Homo sapiens: one gene and its partner. The protein of the gene in region 1 interacts with the protein of each later gene in a pairwise test. Each region holds a gene or a part of one and is shown in the gene's direction. Other genes may lie near its edges.

The links. The genes of interacting proteins can lie anywhere in the genome.
Region 2: the proteins of SMAD4 (region 1) and ETV4 interact in binary tests that used the Homo sapiens proteins (3 or more experiments, as listed by UniProt).

What each region holds. Positions count from the first base shown.
Region 1 is NC_000018.10:51,057,713-51,061,212, forward strand, and holds part of SMAD4 (mothers against decapentaplegic homolog 4), read left to right. Parts: intron 1-412; coding exon 413-532; intron 533-627; coding exon 628-744; intron 745-2,153; coding exon 2,154-2,204; intron 2,205-3,500. UniProt on the Homo sapiens protein: In muscle physiology, plays a central role in the balance between atrophy and hypertrophy. When recruited by MSTN, promotes atrophy response via phosphorylated SMAD2/4.
Region 2 is NC_000017.11:43,539,841-43,543,340, reverse strand, and holds part of ETV4 (ETS translocation variant 4), read left to right. Parts: intron 1-3,500.

The sequences.
Region 1 (3,500 bases):
TCAGTTTTCAACATTTTCTTGAGCCTGGATTTTTGGGGTCCTAATCAGAAAGGTCCAGAGAGAGAGGTGGATGGAGTGGCCAGGATGAACTGACATACCTCTGAAGAAGTTAATATGATAGGCCAGACGTACAGTGGTGTTTTGCTGGCATTTGAAATATGTTTGTGAAGAAATAAGCCACTACAATTAGTTAGACATTACCTAAAATGGAATAATTTTGAGCTTCCTCAAGTTAAAGTTTGCCTTTATAGATGACTGTAGGTTTTTTACCTGATAGGCCATGGGTGAGTTACACTTTTTGCCCATCTTTATAGTTGTGCATTATCAGATAAAATTGGTCCTTCATTTAGTATATGAAATCATAAGATGACATCTATGAATGTACCATGTTAATGTCTTCTTGTTCCTCTAGGTCAGCCTGCCAGTATACTGGGGGGCAGCCATAGTGAAGGACTGTTGCAGATAGCATCAGGGCCTCAGCCAGGACAGCAGCAGAATGGATTTACTGGTCAGCCAGCTACTTACCATCATAGTATGTACATACTTTAAAAAATCTTTTAAATAGTTGAGAAAAAAGTAGGCAGCCTTTATAAAAGCAAATTAACCCATGTGGGCCTTAATTTTTAGACAGCACTACCACCTGGACTGGAAGTAGGACTGCACCATACACACCTAATTTGCCTCACCACCAAAACGGCCATCTTCAGCACCACCCGCCTATGCCGCCCCATCCCGGACATTACTGTAAGCTCTTGTTTTTGTTGTAAGGGCTATTTTTTTTTTTTTTTTGGTAGGGCTTTGTTTTCTGTTTTTTAAAAATGTTTTTACATCTTTTATTCATCCTGTGATTTTGTTTCATTAAATAGTGCTTTTCAGTATTTTTTGTAAACAGTATTATTTTTCATAGTTATCCTACCTTTTTATTTTAGAGGAGTGATGTTTGCTAAATACATTTATTTCTCTGTTGCTAATGTTTCATTAACATCACATTGATTTCCATTCATTTGTTTGTTTGCTTTGTATATGTTCTTAGATCTCATCTGTGTCTTGTATATCCACGCATAATGGATTGAAACCCTTTGAGTGCTAAGTTCTCAAGGTTTCCCTCAGCGTAGTATTCAGTGTACTTTGGATAATGTTGAATCTATAGATAACTCTGTGCTGGCATGATTGGGAGGAATACCCTACAGATAACATGTAGTTTCAGGTAGAATAGGAGCATTGTTCATATGGCTTAGTAAAATCGAGAGTATAACTCTTATATACATTAAATCCCTTTCTTCTCATTATAATATTAATAGTACCAAAGAAAACTTAGAAAATATAGAAAAGTATAAATAAGAAAAGCAAAATTACCCTGAATCCTGCTACTCAAAAACAGCCACTTCTAATATTTTGTTATTTTCCTTCCAGTCATATAAACAGGTATATGTAAATTGACAGGGGCTCCTACTCTATGTGTATTGTATATATCTTGCTTCTTTTCAGTTATGTTACTATTTTTTCCATTTCTTAAGAGAATGTAATTTTTAATGGCTGCCTAGGCCGTCATAGTGTTGAAGGGTGCTGGGTTTGGACCTTTAACAGGCTGTGTGACCATTGACAAGTTATTTCACCTCATTAAGCCTCAAGAGTAATAATAGTAGTATCTACCTCAAGGGGTGTTCGTAAGAAGTAAACGTAATAATTTATGTGAGGTGTTTAGCACAGTGTTTTAACACATTACCAGTTTTCAATTATGTTAGCTATGATTCCATTAAATAAACATCCTTAATTAACATAAGCACTTGTTTTTAGAATAGACCTAACAGTTTATTATTATACATTGCATTATAAATTGTACTGTATTGGACGTTACATGAATAATTCATTTATGATCTGTATTAAATGTTGGATATAAAATTATGTGTAAATTGTGTAATAATAGCACTTGGCAGATAGCACTGAAATGTTAGTTATTAAATATCCACAAAAGTATTAATAGTTTAAGACTATTTGCTTATTGTAAACTTTTAAGTTCTTAGACATTGCATAAGCTTGTTTTAAACAATTCCTAACCTATAATAGTTATATTTAAGTAAGATTTACTGAAAGTTTTAGCATTAGACAACTTTTAGTAAATAAAAATGGAATTTTTGTTGTCTTTTCTTTAGGGCCTGTTCACAATGAGCTTGCATTCCAGCCTCCCATTTCCAATCATCCTGGTAAGTGTATTTCAAAATTGATTTCCTGTATTTAGATTGATTTAGTGGTGATTGAAACGCACAAACACAGGCTTTAATGGAATTATGGGGTCACTTCTCAGATGAGTACAATACTCATCATGACATGAGTTAATCAACAGTTTGAGTAGTCAATATAGTCACACATAGACTGTCTATATTTTATTCAGTTTAACTGTCCCCAAAAGAAAAGAACTATCTTTTCAGCTAAAATGAGAATTACAGAAATGCTGACTTCAGCATTGAATACATAAATATGCAGCAGAATAAAACTAGGTTTCAAAATAGAACAGCTGTAAAACTATAGCTTAAAAAGCCAGGAAAGAATCTTAAGTACATGCCGAAAAGAAAAATAATTCACTCTATTCAGGATCTCTGGTTAACTGGAATTTAGAAACTATTTGATTAAATTGTATGCAAAAGAGTAAATCGCTAAGTAGCTTTCTTCAGTTCAAAGTTTGTGTATAATTTTTGAAACTGTAGAGGTAATAAAACAGAAAACACTTGAAAATAAAATACTGAAAGTCCCTTGTAACACAAACATAGATTTTGAATTTTTTTCTCATCCTTTCGTATCTGTTTTTCTTAGCATAAAAAGATGCAAATATATTACTTCAGCTAATCACCTTAATTTTTTGGAAACTATAAACTCAATTTTCCTCCTAATTAAAAGAAAATTATGAAGAATTATATTTTTATTTTTACTTGTTTATTTTTGAGAGAGGGCCTGGCTCTGTTGCCCAAACTGGAGTGCAGTGGCATGATCTCAGATTACTACAGCCTTGACCTCCTAGTCTCAAGCGATCCTCTCACCTCAGCTTCTAGAGTAGCTGGGACTATAGGCAAGGGCCACCATGCCTGGCTAATGTTTGTATTTTAGTAGATAACAGGGTCTCACCATGTTGCCCAGGCTGGTCTCGAACTCCTGGGCTAAAGCAGTCCTCCTGCTAATAATTTTATTTATTTATTTATTTATTTATTTTTTTCCGAGATGGGATCTCGCTATGTTGTCCAGGCTGGTTTCGAACTCCTAGCCTCAAGTGATCCTCCTGTCTTAGCCTCCCAAAGTGCTGGGATTATAGACGTGAGCCACCACACCAAGCTTGAAAAATTAAAAAAATATATTTTTAAATGATTTTATTTTTGATCTTTGTGGGTACATAGGAGATGTATATATTTATGGGGCACATGAGATGTTTTGATACAGGCATATAATGCATGATAATCACATCATGGAAGATGGGGTATACATCCCTTCAAGCATTTATCTTTTGTGTT
Region 2 (3,500 bases), on another chromosome or scaffold:
TGTCTGTCTGTGTCAGTGTCGGTGTGACAGCAAGTGTGTGTGTGAGAGAGAGAGAGAGAGAGAGTGTGTGTGTGTTAGTTACATGCTGCTGCCCTGTACATTTAAATCCAGTGGGTGGGGAGGTGGGGTGGGGATTGCAAGGCGGAGGTGAGGGGGGTGGGCGCTGGGATCTCCTTGGTTCCCTCTCCTTCCTTCTGAGGGAGCAGCTCAGGTTCCCAGCTGGTGATGGATGGCCAGGTCTGAGGGGGGGATGCTGAGGCCGATCGCTCCTTCTCACTTTCTCTGCGGAGACAGATGCAGCTGCCGGGGCCCTGTCCCCCTGCACCATCCCAACACCACCCCAGCCTCCTCTCCTGTCTCTTCCCACCAGGTCAGTGACCCCGGCAACCCATGGGGAGCTTTGGGGTGGCAGGGAGGGACTAGCTTCTTTGGAAACTTGCCAGTGGTGGGACGCATTAGGAGGAAAGGGGACCAGAGCCCAACCTCCCTTTCTCAGTTTGGTTTTTTCCAAAGCCCCAATTTGAAGAGAAGCAGCAGGGGGGTCCTGGTAGTGTGGGTGGGTCTGTGAAGACAGCATTTGGAGGAGGCACAGGTTGGAGCCGGGCAGATACAGGAAGATTCCAGTGTGGTTGCAGGTTCAGTGTCCTGCGTCCGGGCGTTGAAGGGTGAGTGTGAGTGCGGCTTTATGGAGGCAGCTCACATATCCTTGGGGTTGGGTTTTTGTACACAGGGGTGAATGATGTGAGGCTAGGAGGGCGTGTCTGATTTGGGGGTGCCTGGGATCTGTTGAGATGTTGGGGAAAGAATCAGGCTGCTACAGGGAGACCCAGGCTCAGGCAGGCTGAGCCCAATATGTGTCTGGCTATGGTAAAAGATATGCTGGTTTTTTGTCCAAGGTTCCTTTCCAGGCTTGTCAGGAGCCCTGAATCCTTGGGGAAAATGACTTTGTTGTCTATTTGGTAGTAAGGGCCATTGACTCTAGGCCATGACCCCTTTGTGTGAGGCTCAGGTCTGTGGATTCCCAGAAGCCCTATGGATAGGTTGCTGGGATCCTTGATCCCTCTGATACTGTGTGTAAAATTGCTGGAAGTGCACCATACATAAAGGTGTATGGATTTTTTTAGGAAGAGAATGACCCATAGCTTTTATCAGATTCTCAAAGGGATCGATCGATCTGCGCTCCCCTTTTCACAGGAATCACTGCTCCCCAACCCTCCTCCAAGGGCTCCAGTCCCTTTGCCCTTTGGCTGTCCCAATCATATTTGTAGGTCAAAAAAAGACCCCATGTGTGGAGGGCATGCATGGAGGGCACATTTCACCCTGTGCTGTCTTGCTGCTGCAAGAGTGAAGTAAAAGGAATTAGGGTGTGTGCATCCCTGAATATGCGTCCGAGTGCATGTACACTGGTGCCTCGGCATGTCTGTGGGGAGGGATGAGGTTAATCTCCTCCCTAATCTTTCCCAGCTACAATGCCTCCTTCTCCATCTTTCTGTCTCTTCCCCTTCCTGAAGACTCTTGGGGACAAATATGTCCCCTCCACAACTAGTGAACTGGTTCCTTCCAGTACAGAGGCTGCCAGGGTGGGGGCAGGGTAAGGGACAGCGGTGACACAATGGAGCAGAAGCTCTGGAGAATGCCTCTACCCCCTTCACCCTATGACTGGATCCTGGGAAGAGGGTGACCGAGCATATGTAGTGTGGGTGGCTAACCTATGGTGAGCTTCAGTGTATCTCTGTTTTAACCTCTCAGTTCTTCCAGAATCCAGCTTGGGAGACCCCCCAAGCCCCTCCTCTTTTTTTACTAACCCCCCTTTTTGAAAGGAGAGTCCCTAAAATTCTTTCTCTCTCTCTGGGCATTATGCTGTCTTGGCACTTTTCCCACCCCCTCCTTAATCATCTGCCTCGTCCCCAGACAGATAAACTCCATCTTAGTACCGGGATGGAGCTGGGGACAGACCCTGGCACACTGGCTTGGCAGCCAAGACTCAGCCAAGTTAACAAATAAATAAAGAGAGTGGTGTACACTTAAGACGAAACATGGTAATTAAAAATTCTCCTGCTCTCCAGGAACGCGAGGCTCAGTGTTCCTGTTTCTATCCTGTTGACAGTCTCTGGATGACTGAGGGCCCTGGCCTACCCCTTTGGGAGAAGGCCAGTGTTTGGGGGAGGGGCTGAGCTAGGACAGATTTCTCCTGGCTCTGGGAAGAGGATGGCACCACCTCTTTTGGGGTGTGGTCTGTGTGCTGGAGGAAGCCTCCTCCTGGATTCCGGGCCTGGAGGGGTCCCTGGTTAAACTGTCAGGCCCGAGGCAGGAAGAAAGGCAAGATGATGCTGAGGGTTCTCTGCTCTCCAGCACCAGTGACGCCAGCAAGAGATACCCCCAGCCCATTACCTCAATGGAAAGTAGCAGTTAATGAGGCCCCAGGGGTGGGGCCGGAATGCGTCAGCCACCCCTGAGTTCTGCACCACCCTTTCCCTTGGGACCCTTCTTGCCTAGTAGGAGGGAGGGAAATGTTGGTCACTCTGCTCCCATCACCCCAGCTTCCTGCCACCTTGGGGGATGTTGCCTCTGAATGGACCAGAGGGCACAGTGGGGAGCCTGGCTTTGCATCCCTGGGCAGGTGGACAGATTTGGCCTCTTACCCTCTATCCAAATGTGCCTATTTTTAAGGTTGTGGTGGCTGAAGTGAAAGGATTACCTGAGCCCAGGAGTTAGAGGCTGCAGTGAGCTCTGATTGTGCCACTGCACTCAAGCCTGACACAGGAGACTTCCTTATAATAGATTTTAAAATGCAGATGCCTGGGCCCCACCCCAGTCCTATGGAATGGGACTCTCCGGAGGAGGGGACTGGGAATCGTGTTTTTATTTTATTTTTATTATTGTTATTTGAGACAGGGTCTCACTCTGTTGCCCAGGCTGGAGTGCATTGGTGCTATCTTGGCTCACTGCAACCTCCACCTCCTGGGTTCAAGCGATTCTCCTGTCTCAGCCTCCAGAGTAGCTGGGATTACAGGCGAGAACCACCATGCCTGGCTAATTTTTGTATTTTTAGTAGAGATGGGGTTTCGCCACATTGGCCAGGCTGGTGTAGAATTCCAGACCTCAGATCGTCTGCCTGCCTCAGCCTCCCAAAGTGCTGGGATTACAGGCGTGAGCCACCACACCTGGCTGTAATCGTGTTTTTAACAACGTCCTGGTGACTCTTGAATCAGGCCAGTTTGGGAATGGTTGTCTTTTTGCCGTGTTTGTGCTCCTGAAAAGATGTGTGCTGGCTGTGTGTTTCTGTTTGTTCTTGCCAGCGGATTTCATGTCTCATTGATGTCTTTGGTCACTTCAGACCAAAGTATTATTATGTTGACTTGTCCTAAGTTCTCGTTTAGCTGCTGGTGGCTTGTGATTGTTAAACTCCCTCTCCCTAATGCTTCTGTCAAGAAATCAACTATCTATTAATATAAGCCTATGTTTATAAACACTTGGCACCTCTGATATTTAAAGCAAAT